Homo sapiens: one gene and its partner. The protein of the gene in region 2 purifies or fractionates together with the protein of the main gene of each other region. This does not show direct contact. Each region holds a gene or a part of one and is shown on either strand. Other genes may lie near its edges.

Region 1 (3,748 bases), on a different chromosome or scaffold from region 2:
ACAGGCATCAGCCACTGCGCCTGGCCTTACAACACATTTCTTTTCTTTTTCTTTTCTTTTTTTTTTTTTTTTTGAGACAGAGTTTCGCTCTTGTTGCCCAGGCTGGAGTGCAATGGTGTGATCTCGGCTCACTGCAACCTCTGCCTCCCAGGTTCAAGCAATTCTCCTGCCTCAGCCTCTCGAGTAGCTGGGATTACAGGCGCCCACCACCATGCCTGGCTAATTCTTTGTATTTTTAGTAGAGACAGGGTTTCACCATGTTGTCCAGGCTGGTTTCGAACTCCTGACCTCAAGTGATCTGCCCGCCTTGGCCTCCCAAAGTGCTGGGATTACAGGCATGAGCCATCACACCTGGCCTTATAATGCATTTCATAGCTAATGCAGATGCTATAGCTCCCCTACAATTAATTGTGTTGACAGCAGAAATTTATTTTTGGATTATTTTAGTTTGGTTCGCTCAGGCCATGTTTGCTAGGATAGATAACAGCTAATTGAATGGGGGTACAGTGAAAACCACCTTGAGCTTCATGTCAAAAAACCCGAGTTTGCCTGTGAAACCTGTGAAATGGGAGAAGTGAAAAAATTAAATAAGTAAATAAATAAAATTTGAGTTTGGATCTGTTAGGATATTAATACTTGTGACCTCAGGCAACTCACTTAGCTTCTCTACCCCTCATTTTCTTCATCTACGAAATTAAAGAGTTGGATTATACAGTTTCTAAAATCCCATCTGGTTCTAAATCCTTAGACTCCTTAGACTAAATCGTTAGTGTTTACCAAGCTGTAGAACAAAAGTGGAGGTTTAGAGACAAACCCCAAAGAACAAAAGAACTTGTGTGGGGGTTTGGGGACTAAGACTCCTGGGTCCCAGGCTCAACACTCCACTGACCCATTAGGCAGAACCTTCCCATGCCCAGGTCCAACTGGCCAGTAGCAGGATGATAAGGAAACATTTCAGGGAACATGAGTAGAAATAGAGGAGACCCCTCATTTCAGGGAGCAGCACCTTGACAAGGCAGGAGGATGAGAAGGACCTCTGGAGGGGTCTAAGCTGAGCTGCCCTGAGTCACAGAGATCACAGTGGAGTTTCTCCTGAGACAGGAGTGTCAGCTGAGTGGGAACTGTGTCCCTCATGGGTGGGGTCAGAGGTTACCTTGGCCAGCAGCCGGCGCCCGTCATTATCTAGGATGAAAACAGCCTTGATGGTGTAGAGGGAAGGTTCCTGCAACTGACACCGGAGAGGAGAGTTCCGTTTGGCCCCTGACTCGAGGTGGACACCCTGTGTCTATGGGATCTGCTGGCCCTAGGATACATCCTCAGGCCCCAGCAACCCCAGTCCTCAAGGTCCACAGCTGGTTCTGCCCAGCCCTGTGCCACATGGGCCAACCCAGGTGCCCACTCCACTCCCAGGCAGATGTTCCACTGCAGGCCCCGAGTGGGCGCTGTGCCCGTTGGGTGCAGAAGGTCCTTCCGGGCCCAAGTTCTGTCATGCACTGACTGCTCCAGAGCCCGAGTCGGAGTGTATCACAGAACCTGGGCCGGGGGGGACAGCGGGCCGAGCCTCCTTCTTCCAGCTGATCCCTGGCCGGGCTGGACCTGCGCTATCAGCGCGCCCCCAGGCCCTGGCCCGGGTAGACTCCAGAAGCATGCCCATCACCCACCGGTGATGGGAGCCGAGTCTGGGACGGACAGGCCACTCCTTACCCTCCCCGCGGAATCGCAACTCACCCGCCACCCCCACTCCAAACGGACCCAGAACTTCAGCCCCGCGCCGACGGACTCAGGACAGGCCTCCTCTCCGGTCGGCGCTGGGACGAACTTTTCCTCCCGGGTCCTGGGGCCAGTCAGGGGTGACACAAAGTTCCCAGCCGCCGGGCGCGCGAGTTCTGAGTTGGCTGCTCCCCCTAACCCTGCTCTGTCCCTGCCCAGCTCCCGCCGCCCGGGATCCCCGCGCCCGCCCGCTCCGTACCCGCAGCCCCGAGGGCTCCCCGGCTCGAGCAGGCGGCGCCGGGCCCCCGGCCTGGGCCGCCGCGGCCCCCTCCCCCGGGTGCGGACGTGGCCAGGCCTCGGGCCGCTGCATTCCGCTCGCCGCCTCGCACTGACAGCGCCGCCCGCCGCCTGCCCGCCGCCGCCGCCCCGCCTCCGCGCCGCCCCGCGGCCCCCTCTCGCGCGTGGCCTCCCTTTCCTCGGGGCCCCGTCCTCTTGCTCGTTCTCCCCCATCTCCCCTCCCGCCCTCACCCCACCTCTCCTTCCCCCACTTCTCCTCTCCCTCTCTCCTCCTTGGCTCCTTCCCGAGTCCCTTACATCCCCGAACTCTGCATCCTCAGGGTGCCCCAAGACCAGCCCTCGTCCTGCTTCCTGCCTGCTCTCCGGCCTGTGGCTTTGGTGTGCGCCAGTGTCTATAGGCTGTCCTGGGGCCAGCAGCAAACACAAGCAAAGCCCACTTTTGTCTGTTGACCTCTGGTAGGTACCATGAGGACAAATACGTCAGGTCACCCTTTAGATCTCAGGGACAGGGTCTATAAGCAAGAGCAAATGAGGACAGTTCTGGGGACACCCCTCTGTGAAGAGGCTTTCTCATTCCTCTCTCACTACTTGCAGAAGGCAACCATGGGCCCGGAGACACCTCCCCAGGCTCTCCTAAGTCACAGATATGGCACCATCAGAAGCAAGACAGACGCCCAGCAGCACAAATGCTCCACCAATGACATCGGGCTTTGCAGCATGTTTTGGTTTCTTTGGTCTAAGTCTAACTAAGACAAGCTCTCATTTCAGGGTACACTGGCAAGTGGGAAATTCACATCCCAGTGATATGTTAGTGCTACGTATGCATTTACCGGTAAAAACACTGTGCGTGTATTTTACATTTGACACCTTCACATCCATTATCTAATATAGCCCACACCTGTAAGATAGGCATAATGGACCCTCATTTTAAGCAAAGAGAGACTCAGAGGTTGTGTGACCTTTTCAAGACTATACAGCTAGTTGACTGGGGATAGAACCCAGATTTTTGACTCAAAATTTCTTCCCTATTCTTCTCTTCAAGCCCTCTTATGTTGTGGACCACAGTCACTTACCCTAGATGGTTACAGAATGGGGTTTTCCTCACTGAATGCATCAAGTCTTCTTATCTTCAAGCCTCTGCTGAAATATAATTACCAAAAGGTCCTCCTGACAGCCACCATATCTGACTTGATAGGTCTCTCCTGTCACATTCTCTCAGTTCCTATTTCTTTCTTTCATTGCACTTTTTTCAATCTCTAAATATTATTTTTACTAATATTGCTTGTTTGAGACACGGTCTCACTCTGTTGCCCAGGCTGGAGTGCAGTGACTCGATCTGGGCTCACTGCAGCCTCAACCTCCTGGGCTCAGGCAATCCTCCCATCTCAGTCTCCCGAGTAGCTGGGACCACTGGTGCATGCAACCACTCCCAGGTAATTTTTTATTTTTTTATTTTTTTTATTTTTGTAGAAACAAGGTCTCAAGTCTGGGCTCAATGGCTCACATCTGTAATCCCAGCACTTTGGGAGGCTGAGGTGGGCAGAAGGCTTGAGCCCAGGAGTTCCAGACCAGCCTGGGCAACATGGTAAGATCTAGTCTCTACTAAAACTACAAAGAAATTAGCCAGGTAGGGTGGTGTGACCTGTAGTCCCAGCTACTCAGAAGGCTGAGGTGGGAGAATCACCCGAGTCTGGGGGTTCAAGGCTGCAGAGCCATGATCATGCCACTGTGCTCCAGCCTG
Region 2 (3,648 bases):
AACTTGCCACTCTTGCTCAGCTCTCGGGCTTCAGGGTCATCATTCCAGCGCCGCTTCAACCGAAGCTTGGGGGGCATCAGTGCATCTTCTTTCTTCTCAGGTGCACTGGGCTCTTTGCCAGGCCTATCCTCACTGTCTTCAGTCACCTCCAGAGGTTCTCCACTTGGGGTGCTAATGGGCACAGAGGGCCAGATGGGTGGTGCAGCAGGACGGGCAAAGATGGTGCCTTTTTCCTCTTCAATGGTCCTGCTTGGCACAGTGCCCTCTTCTTGAGTGTGCTCCTCCTTCTCTCGTGCCGACTGCCTGAGGCTCTCAGGATCCTTTTCAGAGGCAGGTTCCACCTTGATTCTTGGGGGAATAGAAGCCATGGTGGGCGTGGTGACTGGTGCTGACTCCTCGCTGCTCTCAACCCTCTCCCGGTTCTTCCGCCCAACTGGTGGGGGCTGCAGCTTGATGGAGAACTGAGTTGACTCCTCAGGATGCATTTGGCACTGCAGTGGTGGAACCATGAGCCCTGGGTAACGGGGAAAAGTCCGAGGACTCAGATGGTAGTTGAACACAGAACAAGCTTGAGAATGAAGGTAGTGTTTCATTTCCTCAGGGTTGAAGGAGAAGCAGCTGCTGCTGGTGAAAGGGCTCAGGCCTGGTGATGGGCTATAGGAGAAGATGGTGGGAGTCAGGGAGAGGGCTGGTGAAATGGGGACATTAAGGACACCTCCGCGGCCAGGGATTGGAGAGACAGCGAAGGGACTGTGGGGGTCAGGGTACATCCCTGGCCTAGCAAACAGAGGAAGCATTATGTCAGGCTTGCGTTTCTGATGGCCAATCCCTCCTCCACCAATGGCATTCCTGGAGGACACGGGATCCACACCCCGGCGCCAGTCAGCAGCTGAGCCATCCTCCAGCTCTGAAAGCTCAGTCTTTCTATCAGTACCATTACTGGACTCCTGGCCAGAAGCAGTTAGGGAGCTAGCAGAGAACCGTCCCGGCTGCACATCATTGGTTGGAGAATGGGTGTCCAGAGGTGGGAAATGGAACCGGGAAGAGGCTGTTGGCACTGGTGGTGCACTCTGAGGAACCACACCTGTGATGGTGGAAAATACAAAAGCCTGCATCAGAGGACTGCTCATTCATTATCATCACTTATGCTAACTAAGTGCAAAATATTTAGTAGTAACAGGAAACAATCATTCCAACTGGACTGAATCCCACAGTTCTCCAACTTCCTAGTAACTACTGCTCAGCTGCTTCTACTCAACTTGTCATCCTTCTCTAGGCTCTTCACTGTCTTCACAGTACTCCTTACTGTCAAAAACATTGTAATTGCTTATCCATATTCTACAACCTAAATTCCACATGGCAGGGACTTCCTATTGTTCACAACTGTACACCTCACAGTTCAGGGCTTAACGGTTGTGTACTTCCTGTACACAATAAATATTAAGTGGAATGAATGAATGGGTACAAGAGCCTTCTCCTCTGCAACTCTAAATATTGTGTATATATTACCTGTTTCAATTTTTAGCTCTGCAAATAGTCTTATTTCCATAATTTTGGCCATATATATATATTCGTGTGTGTGTGTGACGAGGTAGAGGTTTACTGAAATATAAACATTCGAGAACATTTAAGATAGAAAATAATAACAACATATAGATAGTTGCTACAAGAGGACATCTGATGTTTACTCACTGCCTAGACTACCCACATGCTATCCCATTTTTCCTTGTTGGAATACAGATATATTTCGAGATGGGATATGGGGAGGGACAGAGCTGCCCTGGCTGACTGTAGGGAGGGGCAGAGCTGCTCTGGCTGACTGTGCGGAGGGGCAGAGCTGCCCTGGCTGACTGTGCGGAGGGGCAGAGCTGCCCTGGCTGACTGTGCGGAGGGACAGAGCTGCCCTGGCTGACTGTAGGGAGGGACAGAGCTGCCCTGGCTGACTGTAGGGAGGGGAAGAGCTGCCCTGGCTGACTGTGGGGAGGGACAGAGCTGCCCTGGCTGACTGTGGGGAGGGGCAGAGCTGCCCTGGCTGACTGTGGGGAGGGACAGAGCTGCCCTGGCTGACTGTGGGGAGGGACAGAGCTGCCCTGGCTGACTGTGGGGAGGGGCAGAGCTGCCCTGGCTGACTGTGGGGAGGGGCATAGCTGCCCTGGCTGACTGCACCTCCAGAGAAGCTCTGCTTGGGCCAAGGCCCCATTCCTGGATGCACCGCTTCGCCGCATATAAAAAGCAAACAAACCAAACCAAAAAACAAATCAACAAAACTGGAAATGACATGCATGGAAAGTAATGCATTAAAAACTCAAAGATAAAACTCAAAGACCCTATACCTCACATACACTGACCATGTTTTAGTAAAAACAGTTTAATTTTTAAAAAGGCTACACATTTGTTAAGTTCTTATTACCAAGTGTTTTATCATTCCTGATATACAATCACTGCTTCACAGAGATTCAAATATTTTTCAATCTCTCCAAATCTATATTCCTCTAACAAATTCTACTGAATGATCTCCATCTCCAACCTGCTTTCAAACATTAAGGAGGCTGGGAGAAAATCCAGGACCTACTATTCCTTCTTCCAAGTTTGCTTACTAAAATGTAAAGCTCTAAGTGATAACATACACTGTGCTACTTATGTCAACTTTTTTTTTTTTTTTTTTTTTGAGACAGGGTTTCACTCTGTTGCCCAGGCTGGAGTGCAGTGGCACCATCTTGGCTCAATGCAACCTCCACCTCCTGGGTTCAAGTGATTCTTGTGCCTCAGCTTCTGGAGTAGCTGGGATTACAGGTGTGTGCTACCATGCCCGGCTAATTTTTGTTATTTTTAGTAGAGACTGGGTTTCACCATGTTGGCCAGGCTGATCTCGAACTCCTGGCCTCAAACGATAAACTTGCTTCAGCCTCCCAAAGTGCTGGGATTACAGGTGTGAGCCACTGCGCCCAGCCCATCAACTTTAGTGGCTCACAGTTCTCAACTTCCCCAGTGATCCTCCTGATAAGACATGAAAAAGGTATGCCATCTGAAGTCTCAGGGACCTGTGGGTTCCTCGGAGGTGTCAGCAGTTTCTATAATAATGTCAGCAGGGTTCTCAGGCAAAGGTGAAGAAAGAACAAAGGAGAAGAAAAAAATAGAAAAAAACAAAATTTTAAGTATAGTGATCTAGGAGTGGAAACAAAAAAGGTACACAGATATGGGATGGTTATGAATTGCTCCCAATCAGCTGGTGCCTTCTCCTCTTGGTCTAGCAGACTCTGGAGTCTGCTGGTATTCGTAAGACTGTAGCTTTCTGGGTGCATGGGACTGAGTAACACTATGCCAGAGCCTCATTTCCCAAACTAATGTTCCACAGAAAACTGTTCTGCAGGACTTTTTTTTTTTTAAGCCACTGATTTAGAGAGCAGGACGTCTGGCTTCCGAGCAGGAACCTTCATATTGCCAGTGATGAAAGAGAGAATTAAATACGGGTGATATTGAGAAAGGCAAGAAGATTTGTGTTCAGAAGTGTGCCCAGTGCCACACTGTGGAAAAGGGAGGCAAGCACGAGACTGGGCCTAATCTCCATGTCTCTTTGGGTGGAAGACAGGTCAGGCCACTGGATTCTCTTACACAGATGCCAATAAGAACAAAGGCATTACCTGGGGA

The links.
Region 1: the proteins of ETV3 (region 2) and COPZ2 purify together in Homo sapiens (affinity purification with mass spectrometry; one large-scale study listed by BioGRID and IntAct). This does not show direct contact.

What each region holds. Positions count from the first base shown.
Region 1 is NC_000017.11:48,035,698-48,039,445, forward strand, and holds the start of COPZ2 (coatomer subunit zeta-2), read right to left. Parts: upstream 2,101-3,748; 5' UTR 2,081-2,100; coding exon 1,970-2,080; intron 1,551-1,969; exon of another isoform or gene 1,464-1,550; intron 1,229-1,463; coding exon 1,154-1,228; intron 1-1,153. UniProt on the Homo sapiens protein: The coatomer is a cytosolic protein complex that binds to dilysine motifs and reversibly associates with Golgi non-clathrin-coated vesicles, which further mediate biosynthetic protein transport from the ER, via the Golgi up to the trans Golgi network.
Region 2 is NC_000001.11:157,124,896-157,128,543, forward strand, and holds part of ETV3 (ETS translocation variant 3), read right to left. Parts: exon of another isoform or gene 3,467-3,648; intron 1,085-3,466; coding exon 1-1,084. UniProt on the Homo sapiens protein: Transcriptional repressor that contribute to growth arrest during terminal macrophage differentiation by repressing target genes involved in Ras-dependent proliferation. Represses MMP1 promoter activity.